Homo sapiens: one gene and its partners. The protein of the gene in region 1 purifies or fractionates together with the protein of each later gene. This does not show direct contact. Each region holds a gene or a part of one and is shown in the gene's direction. Other genes may lie near its edges.

The links.
Region 2: the proteins of AMPD2 (region 1) and PSMG2 purify together in Homo sapiens (affinity purification with mass spectrometry; one large-scale study listed by BioGRID and IntAct). This does not show direct contact.
Region 3: the proteins of AMPD2 (region 1) and ARID3A fractionate together in Homo sapiens (co-fractionation; one large-scale study listed by BioGRID). This does not show direct contact.
Region 4: the proteins of AMPD2 (region 1) and TUBGCP4 purify together in Homo sapiens (affinity purification with mass spectrometry, with the first as the bait; one large-scale study listed by BioGRID). This does not show direct contact.
Region 5: the proteins of AMPD2 (region 1) and ANGEL2 purify together in Homo sapiens (affinity purification with mass spectrometry; one large-scale study listed by BioGRID and IntAct). This does not show direct contact.
Region 6: the proteins of AMPD2 (region 1) and TBC1D9B fractionate together in Homo sapiens (co-fractionation; one large-scale study listed by BioGRID). This does not show direct contact.
Region 7: the proteins of AMPD2 (region 1) and ZMPSTE24 purify together in Homo sapiens (affinity purification with mass spectrometry; one large-scale study listed by BioGRID and IntAct). This does not show direct contact.

The regions. Positions count from the first base shown.
Region 1 is NC_000001.11:109,622,837-109,626,336, forward strand, and holds part of AMPD2 (AMP deaminase 2), read left to right. Parts: intron 1-1,192; exon of another isoform or gene 1,193-1,253; intron 1,254-2,466; coding exon 2,467-2,597; intron 2,598-2,825; coding exon 2,826-2,956; intron 2,957-3,323; coding exon 3,324-3,392; intron 3,393-3,482; coding exon 3,483-3,500. UniProt on the Homo sapiens protein: AMP deaminase plays a critical role in energy metabolism. Catalyzes the deamination of AMP to IMP and plays an important role in the purine nucleotide cycle.
Region 2 is NC_000018.10:12,706,042-12,709,541, forward strand, and holds part of PSMG2 (proteasome assembly chaperone 2), read left to right. Parts: intron 1-508; coding exon 509-680; intron 681-3,500. UniProt on the Homo sapiens protein: Chaperone protein which promotes assembly of the 20S proteasome as part of a heterodimer with PSMG1.
Region 3 is NC_000019.10:967,535-971,034, forward strand, and holds part of ARID3A (AT-rich interactive domain-containing protein 3A), read left to right. Parts: intron 1-870; coding exon 871-969; intron 970-3,500. UniProt on the Homo sapiens protein: Transcription factor which may be involved in the control of cell cycle progression by the RB1/E2F1 pathway and in B-cell differentiation.
Region 4 is NC_000015.10:43,384,601-43,388,100, forward strand, and holds part of TUBGCP4 (gamma-tubulin complex component 4), read left to right. Parts: intron 1-1,190; coding exon 1,191-1,356; intron 1,357-1,605; coding exon 1,606-1,730; intron 1,731-3,500. UniProt on the Homo sapiens protein: Component of the gamma-tubulin ring complex (gTuRC) which mediates microtubule nucleation.
Region 5 is NC_000001.11:213,005,868-213,009,367, reverse strand, and holds part of ANGEL2 (protein angel homolog 2), read left to right. Parts: intron 1-901; coding exon 902-1,158; intron 1,159-2,169; coding exon 2,170-2,239; intron 2,240-3,500.
Region 6 is NC_000005.10:179,890,898-179,894,397, reverse strand, and holds part of TBC1D9B (TBC1 domain family member 9B), read left to right. Parts: coding exon 1-12; intron 13-930; coding exon 931-1,189; intron 1,190-2,811; coding exon 2,812-3,019; intron 3,020-3,500. UniProt on the Homo sapiens protein: May act as a GTPase-activating protein for Rab family protein(s).
Region 7 is NC_000001.11:40,278,736-40,282,235, forward strand, and holds part of ZMPSTE24 (CAAX prenyl protease 1 homolog), read left to right. Parts: intron 1-1,384; coding exon of another isoform or gene 1,385-1,563; exon of another isoform or gene 1,564-2,515; intron 2,516-2,607; coding exon 2,608-2,792; intron 2,793-3,500. UniProt on the Homo sapiens protein: Transmembrane metalloprotease whose catalytic activity is critical for processing lamin A/LMNA on the inner nuclear membrane and clearing clogged translocons on the endoplasmic reticulum.

The DNA.
Region 1 (3,500 bases):
GCCTCCCCTAGAAGGAGTCAGAAGTGGTCTGGGGCCATATGTAGGGAGGAGGTGTGTAAAATCAGGGTTCTCGGGCAAGAAAAGATCTTACACTCTGGGGGTGAGACAGCTTCCCCTCTTTTCTTCCTCTTCCCACTTTGTCCTTTTCCAAGTAAGAGATAGAGTCACCCCATCTCCACTCCTGCCAAGTTCACTTCACTGCCCTTTACTGGCCTATTGCCTTTGCCCTGCACTGGGCCCAGGGAACCTCCCACTGTCCTCAGTGGGCGGGGCTACAGGTAGAATGTATTTTGAGGGTCCCAGGAGTTCATAATTGCAGGCCTTGCCTCAACACAGAGCCTGGTGTTTTGCAGAACACTTGCAGAGCCATTATCTCTGTGAGCCTTATGGCAGTTGTGGCTAGGCAGGGAAGGGACCACTTATCGCCCCACTTGTAGATGAGGACCCAAAGCCTCCCAGAGGTAGGTAGAGACATGCCCGGAAGCAGGAACAGAATCAGATCCATGTTCTCCAAATTCTAGCCCCCTTTCTCCCAAACTTATTCTGGACAGTTTGTCCTGTCCCTGATGATAGGCTTGGATCAGGGGTTGCAGGTCTAGGGGCCTGCGAACCAGCCCCCTGAGCAGCTGGGCAGCGGGGAAGCCTCAGTGACTGGCCCCTACCTAGACTGGGCCATTTCCCCAGCTGCCAGCCAGCTCCTACCCCAGCAAAGGCCCTGTCTCTCCTGAGGGATGCCATAATCAGGGCCCAGAGGACAGTGGTGAGCAACAAGGCCACTGCCAGAAGAGGCCAACCTGGGGCTGTGGGTGTGATGAAGAGCGCTGTTCCCCTCCTTTTTCTCCCCTCTTACTCTTTGGCCAGCCAGGCCCTGCCCACTCACTGTCCCCTAGGGCAGTGGATTTTAAGGAGGCTTGGCTCCTCCCTGTCGGCCTGCCCTGCCCAAGTCAGCCTACCCTGCTACTCCCCCTTAGGAGCCTCACATCTGGCTGGGTCTTCCCTGGCACTGTAGAGGTGGAGGCCCTCTTCAGTTCTGGAGTTCGTCTTATCTCCCAACTCTGATGCTCCTTCCCTTGGTTTCTGGGCTCCCTTGAACTCCCCTAGCTCCGTGCTCACGGCCATCTCAGGGTCTCCCCTGCTTGCAGCTGCACTTGGTACAGCCTGTGCCAGCCCCTGAGGGACCGGCTGCAGCTTCACTGGCAAACAGGCGGGCAAGGGGCACAGGGCTGCTGGCCGGAGCTGCCTGCACTCTGCAGGTAGGGTTCAGGCAGGGGCCGGGGTGCGCAGGGGACGGGGTCCTGGATCTGGGGCAGGCCCCTCCCTCTTCCCTTTGTCCAGCTTTGGGACCAGTCCTGGAGTATTGGGAAATGGGCGCAGAGACTTTAAGGCCGGCTACCTAGGCAGATCCTGTAATCCTTCCCTAAGCCAGGGTGGAGGGTGCTGGAGGGGAGCACTCCTTACAGCCGGCTGAGAGAGGCAGTTTGGGTGTGGAAAGCTTCTCACTGAGGAGCTGGGGCTGCTGAGCCCAGGGAGGGTCCTTCGGGGTAGGCTGGAAGCCTTGGCAGCCCCCATAGACCAGCAGCTTCACGGCCCTCTGGTGCCAGCCTCCTCGTGGTACAGATGGAAAGTCTAGTCTTGATGAAGAAAGACCCCTGGCTTCTGACACTCCCTTCCCCAGGGCCCTCTGTGGTGCCCCCGGTCCAGATCCTGGGGCCTGAGTGGCATAGACTGTTTGTGGCAGCTCCTTTTGGAGGGGCAGGCTAAGGCCAGGCCACATTTTGGCAGCCCTGGGGCCCTGGGGGACAGGGCGGGCCTCCAGGGAGGAGGTAGGGTTCCCTTGCCAACCAGGCCCTCCACTTCCTCTCCTCTTCCCTTGAGGGCTCGTCCCTAGGTCAGAGCTGAGCAGCAGCTGCGGCTTCTCTTGTGCTGCACAGGTCTAGGATGTCAGGCACAGGGCCCTGCCCCTTTGAGTGGAGAATCTGCTAGTCCAGGGGCGGGTCTGATCCTGGGTTGCCTGCCCTGGGAGCTGCAGGCTGGGGGTCCCTGGTGTGGCCGCCTGGTCCTTACCAAGCACCTGGTGTGTGTCTCTGAGGGTGTCTGTGTGCGTACGTGCATGTGTGTGCACACGTACACACGTGCACCTGCCTCTGGGAGGTAGTCACGTGGAGATTCTCATGGCCTGAGGGATCAGGCTCTAGTCTCATTTGTGGAGGTAATGAATCTACTTGTTCTAGGGGCAGACTCAGAATCCCCACCCCAAGCCTGGAATGGGTGAGGGGTCCCTGCGTTAGAGGTGAGGGTGAGCCCTTTGGGAGCCACACACACAGGCCTACTCCTCAGCTACTGAGGAGGGACTGCCCTCTTTCCCGACCCTGGGCTCTCTCGGGAGCTGGCCTAGGCAGGGCAGGGGCCCAGGGCTTTCAGGGGCTGCCCCTCCACCCTTTGACCCTGGCATCACTGTCTCTGCAGAGGCTCGGGGTGGTCTGGGGGCCCCTCCGCTGCAGTCTGCCCGATCCCTGCCGGGCCCCGCCCCCTGCCTCAAGCACTTCCCGCTCGACCTGCGCACGTCTATGGATGGCAAATGCAAGGAGATCGCCGAGGTATCACCTGGCACCACCCGCACCCTCACCCCGTGTCTCCATGCCCTGCCTCTGCTCCCCACACCCCTCACCTCAAGCTGTCCCCTCACCTCACGCTTGGCTGTCTCCTGATCCTCAGCCTCTCCCAGGTACCCCTGGTCCTGCTGCCCTCACCCCATCCCCAGACTCTGTAGGAGAGTGCCCGAGGGCGGAGGGCCAGCCATGCTGACCTTCCTTCCCTCCCCCCAGGAGCTGTTCACCCGCTCACTGGCTGAGAGCGAGCTCCGTAGTGCCCCGTATGAGTTCCCCGAGGAGAGCCCCATTGAACAGCTGGAGGAGCGGCGGCAGCGGCTGGAGCGGCAGATCAGCCAGGATGTCAAGTGAGCCCGGCAGGCAGCTGCTTAGTCTCCCTCCATACCCTTCCAGACCCTTTCAGAGCCCCTTTTCTGCCTCTTTCCCTCGCACCCTGCCTTGGGGGGTCTGCACAGGGAGCATAGAGTGGGCTTTGGAGTCGGGCTGCTGGGTTCTGTTCTGTCTTCTAGCCGCCGGTGTGGCTGGGTCATGTTGCTTAACTTATGGGTCTGCTTTCTCATCTCTAAAGTGAGTGAGAACAGCACAGGGTTCTGCAGCTCTGCCTTTGAGGATCACATGTGACAACATGTGCACAGCACCTAGTGCGGTGCTGGGACCTGGGAGCAAGGGCCGTCCCTCGGGATCTGCCTGACTTCTCACCCCTCTTGCCTCTAGGCTGGAGCCAGACATCCTGCTTCGGGCCAAGCAAGATTTCCTGAAGACGGACAGTGACTCGGACCTACAGTGAGGAGGGCAGAGGGGCACAGGGGATGCGGAGCTGCAGCCTGCCCTTCTGCCGGCTCTAAACCCCTCCCTTGAATGCACCCCCTGCAGGCTCTACAAGGAACAGGG
Region 2 (3,500 bases), on another chromosome or scaffold:
CAATAAGTATTTGTTAAATAGTCTCAAAGGTGGAGGAGGCCCCAGCAGTTGTAGTTAATGAAAATCAATATCTAGCTATGATGTTATGATGCTTTCAGTACTAATATAACTATTGTATTCTGTCTAAACTTTTTGAAGTGCTGTGGGCCAGGCGTGTTGGCTCACGCCTGTAATCCCAGCACTTTGGGAGGCTGAGGCGGGTGGATCACCTGAGGTCGGTGGATCACCTGAGGTCAGGAGTTTGAGACCAGCCTGGCCAACATGGTGAAACTCCGTCTCTACTAAAAATACAAAAATTAGCTGGGTGTGGTGGTGCGCGCCTATAATCTCAGCTACTCAGGAGGCTGAGGCAGGAGAATTGCTTCAAGCCAGGAGGCAGAGGCTGCAGTGAGCCAAGATCACGCCACTGTACTCCAGCCTGGGAGACAGAGGCAGACTCTGTTTCAAAAAATAAAATAAAGTGCTGCTAATTTTGGTGACTTACTGAACATATCTTTTATAATTTCAGCCAGCAGTATCTGTTGGAAATGTTGGCCAGCTTGCAATGGATCTGATTATTTCTACACTGAATATGTCTAAGATTGGTTACTTCTATACCGATTGTCTTGTGCCAATGGTTGGAAACAATCCATATGCGACCACAGAAGGAAATTCAACAGAACTTAGCATAAATGCTGAAGGTATGTAAGACTTTACCTTGTATTTTTCCACTACAAAGTAGAGTTGTTTTAAATTAGAAATAGACTTTATTGATAATTGTTTTGTAGCAAATGTTTACTTAGTGCCAACTTTGTGTAGAGTTCACAACCCAATCACATTGTCCTATTCTTTTATGTCCTGGTTTTAGTTGTTGTTAGCCTCTTGTAAATGGCAAGTCTTACGAAGGTTGAGAATAAGATCATACTTGTATCTTTTTTTTTTTTATTATTTTTGAGACGGAGTCTCGCTCTCTTGCCCAGGCTGGAGTGCAGTGACGCGATCTCCGCTCACTGCAAGCTCCGCCTCCCGGGTTCACGCCATTCTCCTACCTCAGCCTCCCGAGTAGCTGGGACTACAGGTGCCTGCCACCGCACCTGGCTAATTTTTTGTATTTTTTTAGTAGAGACGGGGGTTTCACTGTGTTAGCCAGGATGGTCTCAATATTCTGACTTCGTGATCCAACCGCCTCAGCCTTCCAAAGTGCTGGGATTACAGGTGTGAGCCACCGTGCCCAGCCCATACTTGTATCTTTTCTAGAATTTTTAAATTTCCTTGTTTTTCAACATGGATTTTTTTCCTTCTATCCTCAGTTTTATCTCCTGTTCTTACTGGTATGTGTAACCATCACTAATAATATGGAAAGGCGAAAAGTAGATTGCGCTGGACTCAGTCTTGTAGGTTTAATATATGTTACGTCAACTAAGTCTTATCCTCGTAGTCATCTTCTTCCATTATAGGATCCATAATAATATGGTATAGATAAGGCTCAAAGAGATTGACTTGCCTGATGCCACTAATAGGTGTAGGCTTTTCCCATACTGTAAATCTTTGTAATTCCTCATTGGACTATCAGGCTTGATTAATCAGGGAACACTGGTTATAATGCAGCACAGCACCAGGTGAGTAAGAGAAGAGCTCCTGTTGATCATGAAGCATGGGAGCACCCAGTTACTACCTTTGATGGCTAACTGTTCTGGTGATCTTTCAGTCTTCTGTTTACCATTTTAAGGTCAAATCCAGAGGTGACAGAAGAGCATGAAAGGCCTTTGGTGAATTGAAAGACAAATGAAGAAGCATTTTGGTTTTTGTGTCTTACTAACCATATCATTGTTTTTAGCTTGCGATAGTGAAATGTACATTTGAGAAATGACCTTATTATTGAACTTCCTACAGGACAGATGGCTTTGTCAACGCAAGACTAAATTTGAGTTACTGCCTCAGAGGATAAAGGACTATAAATGGTTAAAACCAGAATTCATGACCGGGTGCGTTGGTGCACATCTGTAATCCCAACACTTTGAGAGGCTGAGGTAGGAGGAACGCTTGAGCTCAGGAGTTTGAGACCAGCCTGGGCAACAAAATGAGACCCCATCTTTACAAAAAGAAAAAGAAAAAAATTAGCCAACCTGTAGTCCCAACCTCTTAGGAGGCTAACTAACTTGGGAGGACTGTTTGAGCCTGGGAGGTTGTGGCTACAGTGAACCATGATGATGCCACTGCACTCCAGCCCGGGTGACAAAGTGAGACCCTGTCTTAAAAAACAAAAGCCCCTAGAATTTGTATACTTTCCACTAGTGATAACAGCTATCTTTTATTGAGTATTACTATGAGCTAAATGCCATGTACTTTTTTTTTTTTAATGAGATGGAGTTTTGCTCTTGTTGCCCGGGCTGGAGTGCAGTGGCGCGATCTCAGCTCACCGCAGCCTCCGCCTTCCAGTTTCAGGCAGTTCTCCTGCCTCAGCCTCCCGAGTAGCTGGGATTACAGGCATGTGCCACCACACCCAGCTAGTTTTGTATTTTTAGTAGAGACGGAGTTTCTCCATGTTGGTCAGGCTGGTCTTGAACTCCCAAAATCAGGTGATCTGCCTGTCTTGGCCTCCTAAAGTGCTGGGATTACAGGCACAAGCCGCTGCGCCCAGCGGCGTTTACATGTAATTCATTTAATCTTTACAACGTTCTTTTTTTTTTTTTTTTTTTTTTGAGACAGAGTTTTGTTCTTGTTGCCCAGGCTGGAGTGCAATGGCACAATCTCGGCTCACTGCCACCTCTGCCTCCCGGGTTCAAGCGATTCTCCTGCCTCAGCCTCCCGAGTAGCTGGGATTACAGGTGCCCACCACCACACCCGACTACTTTTTGTTTTTGTGTTTTTAGTAAAGATGGGGTTTCGCCATGTTGGCCAGGCTGGTCTCAAACTCCTGATCTCAGATGATCCGCCTGCCTCGTCCTCCCAAAGTGCTGGGATTACAGGTGTGAGGAGCAACTGCGCCCGGCCCCCGTAAACTTTATTTTATTTTATTTTATTTATTTATTTTGGGTGTTTTTTGAGACAGTCTCGCCCTGTTGCCCAGGCTGGAGTGCAGTGGCACGATCTCGGCCCATTGCAACCTCTGCCTCCCGGGTTCAAGCGATTCTCCTGCCTCAGCCTCCTGAGTAGCTAGGATTACAGGCACATGCCACCACGCCCGGCTGATTTTTTGTATTTTTAGTAGAGACGGGGTTGCACCATGTTAGCCAGGATGGTCTCAATCTCCTGACCTCGTGATCTGCCTGCCTCAGCCTCCAAAGTGCTGGGATTACAGGCGTGAGCCACCGCGCCCGATTTGAGATGGAGTCTCACTCCGTCACACAGGCTGGAGTGTGGTGGCGGGATCTCGGCTCACTGCAACCTCTGCCTCCTGGGTTCAAGAGATGCTCCTGCCTCAGCCTCCCAAGAAGCTGGGATTGTAGGCACTCACCACACACCCAGCTAATTCTTGTATTTTTTTTTTTTTTTGACAGAGAGTTTTGCTCTTGTTGCCC
Region 3 (3,500 bases), on another chromosome or scaffold:
GGTGACAGAGCAAGACCTGGTCTCAAAAACAAGGTAAAAAAAAACAAAGTGGAGTATGGACAAATACACTTATTCAACAAATAAATATTGAGCACCTACTGTGTGCACTGGTGACAGCATGAATGTGACAGACACCGTCTACACCTTGTAAAGCTAAAATCTAGTTGGCGAGACAGACAGAAAACAGAACATGTCACAGGTGTCTTTATGATCAGAAATGGCAGTTTTGGTCGGGCGCGGTGGCCCACGCCTGTAATCCCAGCACTTTGGGAGGCCGAGGCGGGCAGATCACCTGAGGCCAGGACTTCAAGACCAGCCTGGCCAACATGGTGAAACCCCGTCTCTACTAAAAATACAAAAATTAGCCGGGTGTGCTGGTGTGTACCCATAGTCCCAGCTACTCAGGAGGCTGAGGCAGGAGAATTGCTTGAACCCTGGAGGTGGAGGTTGCAGTGAGCCGAGATCGCACCACTGCACTCCAGCCTGGGTGACAGAGTGAGACTCCGTCTCAAAAAAAAAAAAAAAGAAAGAAACTCATTTGTTCGGCTGGGCACAGTGGCTCATGCCTATAATCCCAGCACTTTGGGAGGCCGAGGCGGGTGGATCACGAGGTCAAGAGATCGAGACCATCCTGGCCAACATGGTGAAACCCCATCTCTACTAAAAATACAAAAAATTAGCCAGGCGTGGTGGCGGGCGCCTGTAGTCCCAGCTACTGGGAGGCTGAGGCAGGAGAATGGCGTGAACCCAGGAGGCAGAGCTTGCAGTGAGCTGAGATCGCGCCACTGCACTCCAGCCTGGGCAACAGAGCAAGACTCTGTCTCAAAAAAAAAAAGAAAAAAAGAAACTAATTTGTTCTTCTTCCCACAGCCTCCGAAAGCCGCCAGGACTCTGCTGTGAACCTGACGGGCACCAACGGCAGCAACAGCATCAGCATGTCGGTGGAGATCAACGGCATCATGTACACAGGTAGGACCCCTGAGGCCACGCCCTGCCTGGACCTCGCCTCTCCCGCCGCCGTGAACTCAGGACCCTGAGTTGCGCCTGGTCCCACCTGCTTGAACCTAGGTGTGCGGGCGAGCAGGGCACGGCCAGGGGCTTTGCAGGACAAACAGTCAAGACTGATGGAGAGGATACCATCGTTCACCCGGTACCACGCTCAGCCCAGAGGGGGTCGTCCACAGATACATATTCAGTGTGACGTTGGATGGTTCACATTCCTAGTTTTTTGTTTTAATGAGACGGAGTCTTGCACAGACATGCACCAGCACACCTGGTTAATTTTTAAATTTTTTGTTGCTCTTTAAATTTTAAATTGCTTTGTTGCTCAGACCGGTCTTGAACTCTGGGCTCACGCAATCTTCCTGCCTCGGCGTCCCAAAGTGCTGGGATTACAGGCGTGAGCCACCGCACCCAGCCAATCCCAGCATTTTCGGAGGCTGAGGAGCAAAGAATGTATAAGCCCAGGGGTTAGAGACTTTCAGGCTGCAGCAAGCTGTGATGACGCCACTGCACTCCAGCCTGGGCCACAGACCGAGACCCTGTCTCTTGAAAAAAAATTTAATGAATGTATTTTTTATTTTTTTTAATTTGTAATTTGTAATTTTTGTGGGTACATAGTAGGTATATATATTTATGGGTTTTATGAGATGTTTTATACTGGCATCCAATGCCTAATAATCACATCAGGGTAAATGAGGTATCCAAAAAATTGAATCTAGGCTGGGTGCAGTGGCTCATGGCTATAGTTCCAGCACTTCGGGAGGTTAACACGGGAGGATCACTTGAGCCCAGGAGTTCAAGACCAGTCTGGGCAACATAGTGAGACCCCATCTCTCCTAAAAATATAAAAATCAGCAGGGCGTGGTGGCAGGCGCCCATAGTCCCAGCTACTCGGGAGGCTGAGTAGGGAGGATCACTTGAGCCCAGGAGGTGGAGGTTGCAGTGAGTCAAGATCACACCATTGCACTCCAGCCTGGGTGAAAGAGTGAGATCCCGTCCTTCTCTCTCTCTATATATCTATATATAGATATATCGATAGATATAGCTGTAGCTATACATAGATATATATAGATTAGATATAGATTTATATGTATCTATAAATACATATATACTTTTATATCTATATCTACATAGATATATATATATATAGTTGTTTTTTTTTTCTTTTGAGAGGGAGTCTTCCCTCTGTCACCCAGGCTGGAGTGCAGTGGCACGATCTTGACTCACTGCAACCTGTGCCTCCTGGGTTCGAGCGATTCTCCTGCCTCAGCCTCCCCAAGTAGCTGGGACTACAGGCGTGTGTCACCACACCCAGCTAATTTTTTTTTGTATTTTTAGTAGAGATGAGGTTTCACCATGTTGGCCAGGCTGGTCTTGGACTCTTGACCTCAGGTGATCCGCCTGCCTCGGCCTCCCAAAGTGCTGGGATTACAGGCATGAACCACCGCGCCCACCCTATATATACATATTTTTTTAAATAAAATGAATTAAAAAGTTGCCGGGCACAGTAGGTCACACCTGTAATCCCAGCAGTTTGGGAGGCTGATGTGGGTGGGTCACAAGGTCAGGAGTTCAAGACCAGCCTGATCAACATGGTGAAACCCCATCTTCCCTAAAAATACAAGAATTAGCGAGGTGTGCTGGTGTGTGCCTATAATCCCAGCTGCTTAGGAGGCTGAGGCAGGAGAATTGCTTGAACCCGGGAGGCGAAGGTTGCAGTGAGCCGAGATCGCGCCACCGCACTCCAGCCTGTGCAATGGAGCAAGACTTCGTCTCAGAGGAAGAAAAAAAAAAGAATTAAAAAATTTAATTAAAAAAGTGGAGTCAGTGCCAGGGGCAGTGGCCCACGCCTGTAATCCCAACACTTTGGGAGGCTAAGGAGAGAGGTTTGCTTGAGGCCAGCCTGGGCAACACAGAAGACCCCATCTCTACAAAAGAACATAAGTAAATGAATAGTTTTTCTTTTTTTTTTTTTTTTTTTTTTTTTTTGAGACAGAGTCTCACTCTGTTGCCCAGGCTGGAGTGCAATGGCATGATCTCAGCTCCTGCAACCTCCGCCTCCTGAGTAGCTGGGATTACAGGTGCATGCCACCAGGCCCGGCTAATTTTTGTATTTTTAGATGATACGGGGTTTCACCATGTTGGTCAGGCTGGTCTCGAACTCCTGACTTCGTGATCTGCTGGTCTTGGCCTCCCAAAGTGCTGGGATTACAGGCATTAGCCACCACACCCGGCGGTAAATGAATAGTTTTTCTTAAAGTGGAGTCAGGCCGATGGTTCATAGTGGCCACCAGGTGGCGCTGTCGACACAGAGCAGCCTTGTTGCAGGCCCCCGCCCGGCTGTGGTCAGAGGCTGAGCTGAAGGTCAGTGGTGTCCTCACAGGTCCACAAATGGATTTTTGAGGGGTCCGTGCCCTCCGGAAATCAGATGTAAAACGTGTACATTCATATTGAATCTTACAGGGGAGAAGGCCAACTGTGTGCTAGGGGTCTCGCAA
Region 4 (3,500 bases), on another chromosome or scaffold:
TGGTGTGAGGGAGAGGTGGTACTTGAAACTGTGTAAGTTGGTACTTGATGAAACTTGAGTTAAGCAGAGGCAAGATCACAAAGGTGCATGTAAACAGTGGAAATGAGTTTGTACTTGAACCTGAAAAGAGTTGGGGGCTATTGAATTTTAAGCAAGTGGGTACCACAGTCAGACTTCATGATAAATCACTCTGGATGCTGTGTGGGGAATCATTTTTTAAAAATCAAGATTAGAGGCAGGTCGATCAGTTAAGAGAGTGTTGGGGAGACTTAGGTGAAAATAATAGTCCCCTAAACCAAAGATACTAACATTGAATATGAAAAAAGAGCAAAGAGGTGTGAGAGATGTTTAGAGGGTGGAATCAGTAGGCTTAGTGAGTGCTTGGAAATGAGTCAAGAGGGAAGAATCATTGATGATACCCAGGTTTCTGCCTTCAGCAGCTGGGCAAGTAGTGACGATAGGGGTGTATACTGCTGGTATGCGGGGAAGAAGATGGGTCTAATGGGGGGCATGTTGAGTTTGAGGAACTTGTGGGAAATGTTCAGTGGGCTGAGCCTGGGGCTCATGAGAGCACTCCAGCTTACTTTAAATCTACATATGGAATCATCAGCATGGGGCTTGGAGGTTTTTAATCTGGGGCCCTTGGGTGGCTTCAGGAGGTTCATGAAATGTTATATGTCTGTACATTTGTCTGGAAGATCCATAGCTTTTATGATTGCAGAGAGGTCTGTGACCTAAAAATTAAAACTATCTGTTACACTGATCAGTCACAGAAGACGATGTGATTGTATAGGAAGTGTAGGCTGAGAGGAAAAGACAGTCTGGGACAGTGCCCTGAGGAGCACCAGCAGAGAAGACATAGAGAGAAGACCTGGAAAACAAAAAAGACCACCTCTTTCATCGTACAAGTAAGGAAGCTGGTCGACTGTGCAAGTTTTTACTCAGTAGTAAAGGCAGAGTGAGGGCCCAAATCCCAGTATTTAAGCCACTCTTATTTCCACCATGCCACTCTGCTGCCTGAAGATGAAATACATCTCTCCAAAATGGGTGGTTTGAGAACTGTGCAACACCAGATTTGAAGTCCCTGCGTCTTTATTTTAAATCATGGGTTGGGAGAGTTACTAGGTATTTTCTTGTTTTCCTTTTCTTGCTTCACACTGCATCTCGATGTGTACTCTTTCCTTGACTAGCGCCTGATTGAGGAAGAGAACATGCTGGCACCATCTCTGAAGCAGTTTTCCCTACGAGTGGAGATTTTGCCATCCTACATTCCAGTGAGGGTTGCTGAAAAAATCCTATTTGTTGGAGAATCTGTCCAGATGTTTGAGAATCAAAATGTGAACCTGACTAGAAAAGGTAGAAATCTCCTTGTCCAATGTACCACACCCTCAAAATCTCTTCTTCCTTAATACTATGTGGCCCCACAGCATGCCTGGTCAGAGCGAGTGGTCGATAATATTCCTATCCTGAGATTGTAGCAGAATCATGACGTTTGTCTGAGAAGCAGGTGAAGTTGCTGCCCCACTGAGATTAGCCCTCCCCAGAAAACCCTAACTGTCCTGGGTATTCTCCGTCCTCCTTTGACGGTGTCTTCCTATTTTGCAGGATCCATTTTGAAAAACCAGGAAGACACTTTTGCTGCAGAGCTGCACCGTCTCAAGCAGCAGCCACTCTTCAGCTTGGTGGACTTTGAACAGGTGGTGGATCGCATTCGCAGCACTGTGGCTGAGGTTTGTGTTTCATCGTATATATATATATATATATATATATATATATATTTTTTTTTTTTTTTTTTTTTTTCTTAGGCAAAATTGGACTAGTTTCCTAGAAATTGAGTTACTTGGTCGGGCGCAGTGGCTCACGCATGCAGTCTCAACACTTTGGGAGGCCAAGGCAAGTGGATCATCTGAGGTCAGGAGTTCAAGACCAGCCCGGCCAACATGGTGAAACCCCGTCTCTACTGAAAATACAAAAATTAGTCGGGTGTGGTGGCATGCACCTGTAGTCCCAGCTACTTACGAGGCTGAGGCAGGAGAATCGCTTGAACCCGGGAGGCGGAGGTTGCAGTCAGCCGAGATCACACCATTGCACTCCAACCTGGGCAACAGAGCAAGACTCTGTCTCCAAAAAAAAAAAAAAAAAAAAAAAAGACACTGAGTTACTTGACTTTTGTTTTTATCTTGATGTCTTGATGAGTTAAGAACCGAGCTTGGAAAGAAATGTTGCAGAGAGTTGAAGGCAGAAAGTAGAAAAGAAAAGCCTCTGTTTTCATTAACAGAGGCAGAACTGCCTTCCCATTTTCCTATCTAACTAAAAGACAGGTGGTTTTTAGTTGGTTAGTTAGTTGAATAAAGGGGGGATCTTGGTTTAAATTCTGAAAATCAGCATTTTGGATCTGTCTCTATCGTTTGCAATAACTCCTAGGAATCAACTAATTCTGACTAAATTTTGTGTCTTGTAGTTTAGTATGGCTCATAACTTATACTTTCATTTCTATACACAATCATCTTATGAGGAAAGCAGAACAAATATTATTTTCTCATTCTTATAAATGAAGCAAACACTCAGCAAGCTGACTTGTCTGGCTTGCCTGGTGTGGCACAGTGAGTAGCCATAGTGAGGTCAGTGCCAGGCCTCCGACTCCTGGTGCACAGTCTTCTTCATTTTGAATTGTGCTGGTGCCACCGACTTAAATTGTGACCAGTAATTTTTCAAAGGAGCATATATGTTCTGTGGCTTATATTAACATTTGTCTCATGGATATGTGATAACACGAAATGAGACATTTAGTCAGCTGTGTTGTTAACTATATTCCTGGCTTTCAACATTGGCTAAGCATAGAATCGCATGAGAAAATTTTATTTTTTATTTTTTATCTTTTTATGGAGTCTTGCTGTGTCACCCAGGTTGGAGTGCAATGGTGTGATCTCGGCTCACTGCAACCTCTGCCTCCTGGGTTCAAGCGATTCTCCCGCCTCAGCCTCCCAAGTAGCTGGGATTACAGGCACACATCACCATGCCCAGCTAATTTTTGTATTTTTAGTAGAGATGGGGTTTCACCATGTTGGCCAGGCTGGTCTCAAACTCGTGAGCTCAAGTGATCCTCCCACCTCAGCCTCCCAAAGTCCTGGGATTATAGATGTGAGCCACTGCGCCTGGCCCGCATGAGGAAATTTTAAAACCTGCACTTGCACCAAGTCCTTACTTCCAGAGCTTCTGATTCATAGGTCAGGAGAGGGTAGGTACCTTTATTTTATTTTATTTTTGAGACAGGGTCTTGCTTTGTCACCCAGGCTGAAGTGCAGTGGAGCAGTCGCGGCTCACTACAAACTCCGCCTCCCGGGTTGAAGCAATTCACGTGCCTCAGCCTCCTGAGTAGCTGGGACTGCAGGCCTGCACCAGCATGCCTGGCAAACTTTTTTGTATTTTAATAGAGATGGGGGTTTCACCATGTTGGCCAGGCTGGTCTTGAACGTTTGGGCTCAAGTGATCCTCCTGCC
Region 5 (3,500 bases), about 100 Mb from region 1:
CCGTGTTTCTCTTCATGGTTTCCATGGCAGTAAGAGCATGCTCTTTAATGATAGGATGTAGGAGACAAGATCAAAGGTGAATACACACACACACATCACACACACGGTTATTTCTAAGTCAGGGACTGCCTATGATTGCAAAGTCTTGTGTTTTTTTATTCTTTTCATCACTTTTGCAGAATGCATGATGTGTTTGCAGAATATGAACACACGCCTGGTTGTTGCATGCTAGGTTTGTTGGTTAGCCATCATTTACTAGCATTCTGTAGCTATGTCATATTTAACTTTTCCTTTGTTGTACATTTAAAAGATTTCTTTTGTTATTTTGTTTGCATGTTCCACTTCAGTGTTTTAAACACTAAAACTTCTTCCATATATTGCCATTATATACACTTCTTTCATGTATAAACTAGAATTCTGAACTAAGGGTTGCTTCTGGAACTTGGTTAATCATTTGACGATCTTATCCCACTAATAGGGAATAAAATACAGTGTAAAATCATCTTATTGAAAAGCCAACTTTGACATACAAATTTGTTGTTATAGTTATAAAACTGCCAATCACATCTGTGGCAGAGCCACTTCTTAACTGTAGAGAAGTGAGAAACCACAACCTCTGTATAGTCTTAGCTTTGTTAACACATACTCTCAGCCTCCAGAATGACTTGCAAGATTCTTTTAAACCTGTTTTAAACCTGTTGGTCAGTATATTGTGTTACCGCATTTGTAACCAATTTGATAACAGTTCTAATTATTCAGTGCTATATTGCCACTTCCTAGGGAAAAACATTCTATTCATTGCTTATGGGAATTTTTAAGAGGCTGAAAAATACATATATGTGGGAAACTGTATGGTCTGCTTTTGATTAATTCCTTATATTTGTGCAATATATTTTAACAGGTGTGATAAAGCGGAATTGGGAATATATATGTAGCCATGATAAAGAAAAAACGAAGATCCTAGGAGACAAAAATGTTGATCCCAAATGTGAAGACAGTGAGAACAAGTTTGACTTTTCAGTGATGTCCTATAATATACTTTCACAAGATTTACTGGAAGATAACTCTCACCTTTATAGACATTGCCGGCGGCCAGTATTACACTGGAGTTTTAGGTTTCCCAATATTCTGAAAGAAATTAAACATTTTGATGCAGACGTAAGTGCAAAATATTATTGAAATTCTTCACATAAGAAAAAGTTGGGGCCGGGCACACTGGCTCATGCTTGTAATCCCAGCACTTTGGGAGGCTGAGGCAGGTGGATCACCTGAGGTCGGTAGTTTGAGACCAGCCTGACCAACATGGAGAAACCCCGTCTCTACTAAAACATACAAAATTAGCCGGGCGTGGTGGCTCATGCCTGTAATCCCAGCTACTCAGGAGGCTGAGGCAGGAGAATCACTTGAACCTGGGAGGTCGATGTTGCAGTGAGCTGAGATTGCACCATTGCAATCCAGCCTGGGCAACAAGAGCAAAACTCTGCCTCAAAAAAAAAAAAAAAGAAAGAAAGAAAAAGTTGGGTTAAATGTTTCATTTGTGCATTTATGAACTAAATGGTTTTATCCATTTTGTTTGTGGGGTAAGAAAGGAATATGTTTAAGAATAATGATGGAATAAGTCTTAATAAGGTATAACTTTCAGAGAGGCATTTGTTAGTGGTTGCTGGTATGAATAATCATCTAACTTTTCAAAGAGGGTCCAAAAAGTTTTTAAGTATGGGTCAGTTTTGAGACAGAAACTGGCAACATATTAAGTATTCAGTAAATATTAACTTTGATTTGAAATTTCAGTAATTCATGCAAAAATGTCACCTACCTGATAGCATTCAAAGAAATCTGCCTCTTAAGACCTGAAAGATAGTACCAATGAACATGTAAAACCCGGAAAAATATCCTGACATGTAAGCTAAGAATATTTCCTTTTGGAAATAATAATTTTGAGTACTAAGGGAGCTCCATGTGATTGAGGGCCAGAGTTTTGAGATTGATCAAAATTCGGAAACATTAATTTGGTAGATCTATAACAAGAAAAACAGGTAAGTCTTTTATTTCAATTCTTATCAGGTGTGGAATTTTAGAAGCCTGCTTTTAGATATTTTAAGATAAAAGCACCAGGAAATTCATGATTGCATCTCTGTGTTCTAATTCAAGCTATTTTTTTCTTCCAAGGTACTTTGTTTGCAAGAAGTTCAAGAAGATCATTATGGAGCAGAGATCAGGCCAAGTTTGGAATCACTGGGTACAATGCAACTTTTTTTTTTTTTTTTTCTTTTTTGAGACAGGGTCTCACTCTGTCGCCCAACTGGAGTGCAGTGGCACAATCATGGCTCACTACAGCCTCAACCTACTGGGCTCAAGTAATCCTCTCATTTCGGCTTCCTGAGTAGCTGGGACTAGAGATGTGTGCCACCATGCCCGGCCAATTATTTAATTTTTTTTATAGAGACAAGGCAATGTAACTTTTAGCCAAATTTACTTTTGAAAATTCATGTGTCATTAAAGTATAACTTGCTGACAAAGATGTGTGGCATATTTTGGCTAAAAATCTTAATTTTAAAAACTTAATTTCAAAGAGGAAAAGATTGAGGTACTCACTGGAAACTTTTGTGTTGGTGTATAATTTTAATTCAAACAGAAAGATGTGTAAGAATATCTTAGTAGCTCCCTTTCCTAGGAGTTGTTCTGTCCACCTGTAGACCTATAAGCTTCTGAGCTCCAGGAGACCATTTTGTCTCGTTCATCATTATAATACCAGTGCCTGCCAGTGTCTACCTAATGGATAGATGCCAAAAACCTGTTTGATAAATAAACACTCCTAGAAACAAGTTATCTGTGGTCCCATATACTTGAGAAGTGTGCTTACTTTGCATTCATTCATTCAGCAATTTTTTTTTTTTTTTTTTTTTGCGACAGAGTCTCTCTCTTGCCCAGGCTGGAGTGTAGTGGTGCAATCTCGGCTCACTGCAAGCTCCACCTCCCAGGTTCACGCCATTCTCCTGCCTCAGGCTCCCTAGTAGCTGGGACTACAGGCGTCCGTCACTATGCCCAGCTAATTTTTTGAATTTTTTTTAGTAGAGACGGGGTTTCACCGTATTAGCCAGGATGGCCTTGATCTCCTGACCTCGTGATCCGCCTGCCTTGGCCTCCCAAAGTGCTGGGATTATAGGCGTGAGCCACCACGCCTGGCCTTCATTAGCAATTTTTTTTTGAGTGCCTACTATATACCGTGCACTGTTCTAGGGAATGAGGATATAGCATTGGGCAAAAAAGATTAAAAAAATTTCTCCCTTGTGTGGAGTGTACCTTCTGGTGGAGAAAGGCTAACCAAATAAATAAGTAAATAGCATATTAAGTAATGATAGTTTTCTGGAGAAAAGCAGGAAAGTGGAATAGGAGAGGTTTCAGTTTTAAACAAAATGATCAGACGAGGTGACATTTGAACAAATATTTGAAGGAGGTGAAGGAATAAGCGATGCCTAGAACATTCTAGGCAACAGAAA
Region 6 (3,500 bases), on another chromosome or scaffold:
TGGGGAAGGAAGGTGAGCCCGCCCCTCAGTGTGCCCCAGCCCCCACACCCTCAGCCCCTCCCTGCCTTCGGCCCCCAGATACTCCATCCCCACATGGCCACCAGAGGGGTCTCCCTGAAACCCAAATGCCACCTTAGCGGCCCAAGATGGGACTGTCCGGCCTTGGCCAGGCGTACACCTGCTCCCAGCCGACTTTTACCATGCCCCCCACTCGCTAGTAGGGTTCTCTACATGGTGACTCCGCGTGCCTGCCCTGCCCTCTTCTGCTGAACTGGCGTATTCAGGCACACGTCTGTCCCAAATTCCTGGTGATTCCATGTCATGCAATGCCTTGGGTGCGTGCCACAGCCCTCATCTGCTGCAGGTTCCTCCCTACAGACATCCCGGCCACAGGATGCGAGCCTGATTTCCCAGCAGCTCCAGAAAGAGCCCCAGGGTCTTAGCCATCCCCAAGCCCACCAAGCCCTCCTCCCTCCTTGCCTCCCTCAGCCCACAGCCTCCCTGTGCCCCCTCCTGCCCTTGCCGCTTACCTGTCACGACCAGGTGGCCAGTCACCTCCCGTCAGCAGGGGCTGTGTCCTGTTCTGTGTTGGCCGCGCTGTGCTGTGACTGTTCACACCTCCGTGCGCTCCCACTTGGGGGAGCTGCTGGGTGGGTCTCGGTGGTTCACCTCCGCACGTTCGTTCCTTTCCCCTTCAGCCACTGGTGGGGGAGACACTCACCGTGTGTGGTTGGTCTGGAAGGCAGTGGACACCTCAGTGGCCTGGTCCCTCCACATGGAGGGCGTGACACAGCCCAGACAGGCCTGGGCACACAGGAAGTGCTGCCCCCAGAGAGCAGTTCCCTGGGATGGGTCTGGGGTACAGATGGGCATCAGGAGCCTCGCCCTGCCAGGCCCTAACTTGCGGTGTGTCTATCTCTGTGGGCACAGTGAGCCTCGTGGTGCAGTGGGTGGACATAACGCGTCTGGAGAAGAACGCCACCCTGCTCTTCCCCGAGAGCATCCGTGTGGACACCCGCGACCAGGAGCTCTTCTTCTCCATGTTCCTCAACATCGGCGAGACCTTCAAGCTCATGGAGCAGTTGGCCAACCTGGCCATGCGGCAGCTGCTGGACAGCGAGGGCTTCCTGGAGGACAAGGCCCTGCCTAGGCCCATCCGGCCACACAGGAACATCTCAGCCCTGAAGCGGTGCGTTGCCCTCCAGGGCTGGGGTGGGCTCATGTGAGCCAGGTTCGCTGACCTTGGCTGGGACCTGCCTGGTCCAAGTGTGTAGACCTGGAGAAGGTGTCCACATTCACCCCTCATGGGCTCCCCACTTGGGAAGGAAGCCAGGTAAACAGATCATTGCAGTCCCGTGTGGAGAGGCAGCAGGAGATAGCAGTGATGTCCTGAGGATACCACTAATGGGGAGGAAGCTCTTCACACTTTATTCCTCTTGGCCCTATGATGGGAAGGGGCTCTTACCATCCCTAGGTATCAGACAAGGAAGCTGAGGCACAGAGAGGTTAAGTAACTTGCCTGAAGTCCCTCGGTTAGTGAGCAGTGGAGCCAGGATGTAGCCACCTCAGCCAGGGTGTTCTGACACCCCCAGAAAGGCTTTGGTAAATCTGGGCTCAAGTGCACGGCCTCCGTCCCACCGTGATTGACAGCTCTCCTGTATACCCTGAGACTCCTTGGCCAGAGGCCTCTCACAGCCATGGGACCCCCAGGGGTCCTGAGTTTGACGTGGAAGCAGACCTCTGGGTCTGAAGCCAGCCAAGGAGATGGGCCATGTGTGGGTCTGAGTTCCCTGCTGCCCTGTCCAGGGGACCGATAGGCAGGAACACATCATAGCAGCCAGCCCTCCCGGGCTACTTAACGTTTGGGTTCCTAGGTTGTAGCTTATGGGAAACTCCAGAGGCTGGACAAGATCTCTGAGGTTCCCTGGGTCCCACAGCCAGCCTGACCACAGCCAGATTCACACCCTTGTGTTGAGCGACCTCATTCCAGCCAGGCCATTTCCTGCATTGCACCCACAGACTGTGGTCCAGGCCCAAACTCTGGGGTCCACCTCCAGGACCAGAAAATTGTGCAAGCATGTTGTCCTTGGGATGCAAGTGACAGGTTGGCTTGTTGGACCTTTTGGAAAGAACACGAGCAGAGATGGAACATGACTGCTCCTGGCACTGCCGGTGAGAATGCAGTCAGGCCCTGGTCAGGCCACTGCGGCCCAGGGCAGGCAGGAGGCTCCCTTTGGGGCTGGGAGAGTTTATGTGGACAGAGCCACCAAAGGGGTGAGGGCCTGGGCCAGGCCACTGTCACAGCCATCAGATACACAGGTGTGCATTTCTGTTAGCAGCCGCATGCTTTAGTTTAAGCTCCACACCTCCCTGTGGGGAGCTCCTCACCTAGGTTTCAAGGTGAAACCTGGGGTTAGGCCTGCCCAGGGTGGAAGAGCTGCCCGGGGCCCTCCATCTGAGTGGGATCCAGGGCAGGTGCTCTGGGCTCTGCTTGCCCATCAGTACCGAGGGATGGGTTGCACATTGCCCAGGCCAGCATCTAGGTGTGTCCTTTTCAAAGCAGTCTCAGGACACATTGCTTGCTGGCCACTTCTCCGCTGGTTATGTGACTGTCTCACCTTCTGCCTGCTCACTCAGCATGCATCTTTTATTGAACTCTGAGGTCCCTGAGCATGACTTGCTCAAGGGACCACCCCAGGGATCCTGAATCTGATGTGGAAACAGGCCTGGGGAGGCCCCAAGGCTTCCTTGAGAGTGTGCTGGTCCTGACCTTGTCCCCTTTCCTCCTGTCCTCCTACCTTGTTTCCCCAGAGACCTGGACGCCCGAGCCAAGAATGAGTGCTACCGAGCCACGTTCCGGCTGCCCAGGGATGAGCGGCTAGACGGCCACACAAGCTGCACCCTGTGGACGCCGTTCAACAAGCTGCACATCCCTGGCCAGATGTTCATCTCCAACAACTACATCTGCTTCGCCAGCAAGGAGGAGGACGCTTGCCACCTCATCATACCCCTGAGGGAGGTCAGCATCCCCTAGTTGAGAGGCCAAGGCCTTTCCAGCCCCGAGGTGTCAGTGGGCTCAGGGACCAGCCTGTCCTGCTCTGCCCTGTCTCACTGGGGGGTACCTGGGAGGATGCCCTAGCCCAGGCAGTCACATGTCACTCAGTGATGGGACAGGTGGAGGGTGTAGGACAAGTGAGCCCCTCCACAGGCACCTGCCCTGTTGGGGAGGCAGGTAACATGGTGGGGGCACACTGCTTGCCCTCTCAGGTCACTTGCCTAGTGGAGACAGGGTCTCCCACGCGTGAGTTTCCATCAGGCCTGCCTTCTGGGCCCTGCAGGGCAAAGTGCTGCTCCGTGGCTGCGCTTAGAGGACCGTGTTCCTGCACCGGTCCCATATGTCACTCTCAGAGGCCACCTCACCAGTCCTCTCTGGACATACCACCTTGGCGTGGCTCGGCTCCAGCAGGCCATCAGAGGTCGGCTCTCCCCTGTGGGGCGGC
Region 7 (3,500 bases), about 69 Mb from region 1:
GTGCTCTTAATCACTATACTCAACTCACTGCACATTGTAGGACATTTAGAAATCAAAGAAGTGCATAAAGAAGAAAATAAAAATCAACCATAGTTCAGGTACTGTTAGCTGCTATTAAAAATTTAGGTATGGGCCAGCTGTGGTGATTCACACCTGTAATCCCAGCACTTTGGGATGCCAAGGCAGGAGAATTGCTTGAGCCCAGGAGTTAGAGACCAGCCTGGGCAACATAGCAAGACCCTGTCTCTACAAAAAATTAGCCGGGCATGGTGGTATGTGTCTGTAGTCCTAGCTACTCAGGAGGATGAGTCAGGAGGATTGATTGAGCTCAGGAGGTCAAGGCTGCAGTGAGCCATGATTATGCCATTGCATTGCAGCCTAGACGACAGAGAGACCCTGTCTCAAAAGAAAAAAAGGTATGTCTTCTTCCAGTCTTTATAAAAATTGCTTTAATTATAGAAGTAGGTATGCTGATTTTAAAAGTCTTTGGGAAAAGAAAGGAAACAAAAATCTATAATTTTAGAATTTAGTGATAAACATTTCAGTATTTTGGTATGTTTCCTAATAGGCATGGGCTTATGCTTTTCTGTTAATATTTGTTAGGTTGGTGCAAAAGTAATTGCAGTTTCAGACCATGAATTTTGAATCCTTATAACTAGGCTCAAACACATCTTTATTAATCAAAAGAAGAACCATTACAATCAACACATTTTTGCCAACAAGAAATACGTTTGCTTATTTCTGTAGGGTAAAACTCTGTGCTTCGGGATTTGGCAAACTCTTGGAAAGCATTTTCTGCATCCAGCTAGTTGTGAAAACGTTTTCTCTTTAAAAAGTTGTTGAGATGCTTGAATAAGTGGTAGTCAGTTGGCAAGAGGTCAGGTGAATGTGGCAGATCAGGCAAAACTTCATAGCCCAATTTGTTCAACTTTTGAAGGATTGATTTTGCGATGTTCGGTTGGGTGTTGTCTTGGAGAAGAATTGGGCCCTTTCTGTTGCCCAGTGCTGGTTGCAGGCGTTGCAATTTTCTGTGCATCTCATCGATTTGCTGTGCATACTTCTCAGATGTAATGGTTTTGCCAGGATTCAGAAAGCTATAGTGGATCAGACTGGCAGCAGACCACCAAACAGTGACCATGACCTTTTTTTGGTGCAAGTTTGGCTTTGGGAAGTGCTTTGGAGCTTCTTCTGTGTCCACCCACTGAGCTGGTCATCGCCCGTTGTTCTATAAAATCCATGTTTCGTCTCACGTCACAGTCTGATAGAGAAATGGTTTGTTGTGTAAAATAAGAGAAGACGACACTTCAAAACAATGATTTTTTTTAATTTTTATTTTCGCTTAGCTCATGAAGCACCCACTTATCAGGCTTTTTCACCTTTCCAGTTTGCTTCAAATGCCAAACGACCGTAGAATGGTCGACATTGAGTTCTTCGGCAACTTCTTGTGTAGTTGTAAGGGGATCAGCTCCGATGATTGCTCTCCATTGGTCATTGTCAACTTCCGATGGCCTGCCACTACGCTCCTCATCTTCAAGGCTCTCATCTCCTTTGCAAACTTCTTGAACCACCACTGCGCTGTACGTTCGTTAGCAGTTCCTGGGCCAAATGCGTTGTTGATGTTGCGAGTTGTCTCTGCTGCTTTACGACCCATTTTGAACTCAAAGAAGAAAATTGCTTGAATTTGCTTTTTTTTTTTTCTTTCTTTGTGAGACAGAGTCTCCGTCTGTTGCCTAGGCTGGAGTGCAGTGGCGACATCTCTGCTCACTGCAACCTCCGTCTCCTGGGTTCAAGCAGTTCTCATGCCTCAGCCCCACGTGTAGCTGGGATGACAGGTGTGCGCCACCATGCCCGGCTAATTTTTTGTATTTTTGGTAGAGACAGGGTTTCACCATGTTGGCCAGGCTGGTCACGAACTCCTGACTTCAAGTGATCCGCCTGCCTCAGCCTCCCAAAGTGCTGGGATTACAGGCATGAGCCACTGCACCCAGTTGAATTTGCTTTTTGTCTAATATAATTTCCCTTATCTAAAATAAATATAAAATAAACAGCAAGTAATGTCATTAGCAAAAAACATAAAGTGAGAAATGTGCATTAAAATGATGTATAACATAACCATATTTATTTAAGAATGTATTCCAATATCAAACAGCAAATTTCAACAATGCAAAAACCGCAATTACTTTTGCACCAACCTAATACATGCACATTTTTTCTTGACGATAATGGAACCTGATATACGTGAAGTTTTGTATCCTTCACAATATATTGGTGAGCTTTTTCTTGTTAAAATTCTTTGGAAGTATAATTTTTTTCTGGCAGCTTAAAATTCCATTTCATAGTTTTACTATAATTGAATCATTTGTAACTGTTGGATGTTTAGGCTTTACTTATTTACTTACTGCTATAAAGCTGTGATGAGCACATTTATTGGCAAAAAACAGACACTCTCCACTGCTGGTGGTGAATTATGTTGATATGATTTTTCTTCACATATTAAATGATTTGAAAATGTTAATGTCCTTTCCAGTAATTCAATTTCTAGGAGTCTCTCCAAAGGACCCCAAACTTTTTAATTATATTCCATGCTTTGAACTGTCTTTTCCTTAGGATCTAAACGCTCTTCCCACAGCAATGCTTATTTTTATGGCTTCTTCAAGAACAAGCGAATAGTTTTGTTTGACACTCTACTAGAAGAGTACTCTGTACTAAACAAAGACATCCAGGAGGATTCTGGCATGGAACCCCGCAATGAGGAAGAAGGGAACAGTGAAGAAATAAAAGCTAAAGTTAAAGTGAGTTATTTTTTCCTAAGAGATTCTACCTTAGTTTTTATACACAGTTCCTGTGACAACTCAAAATAACATCAATTTCTAGGCAGTGAGTGTTGAATTCAGGGAGACTATCAGATGAAAACCATGGCTCCTTTATAGTTCTGGTATTTAGGAGAGATCACCACTATTATTACATGCTAACTACCTTGCAAGCTTTTATAGAATGTGGATATTAAAATTGGAAGCTCTTATAAGAAAATTCATATGATTATAAGCTATCTTTAAAACAGGAACTTGTGTGTATATATATATATGTGTGTGTATATATATATATAATTTCTTATGTGTTTATGATCAAAGAATTCCCACAAGCAAGATAAAGAGAAGATAAACATCTAATTTTTAGCTTTATTAAGACAGTAATTGTAGGCTTTGGCAATGGAGAGACTTGGATTTGAATCCTGGTTCTGTCATTTAGTAGCTTTGTATCCTTGGATACGTTGTGTAATTTAGTCTGTTTTATTTGTTTAACACCCATTTATGAAATGTATACTCTGTGCTGAGAGACTTTACTTGGCACTAGGTACACAAAAATAAAAAGGAATACCTTCCTCTTAAGCTTACAGTCTAAAGGGGAAATAGTCATGCAATCACAGTACAATACGTGAATTGCTACTGTCAAGCTTTAGATTCTAGATATAGTAACTGGAGCACAAGAAAAGACATTTC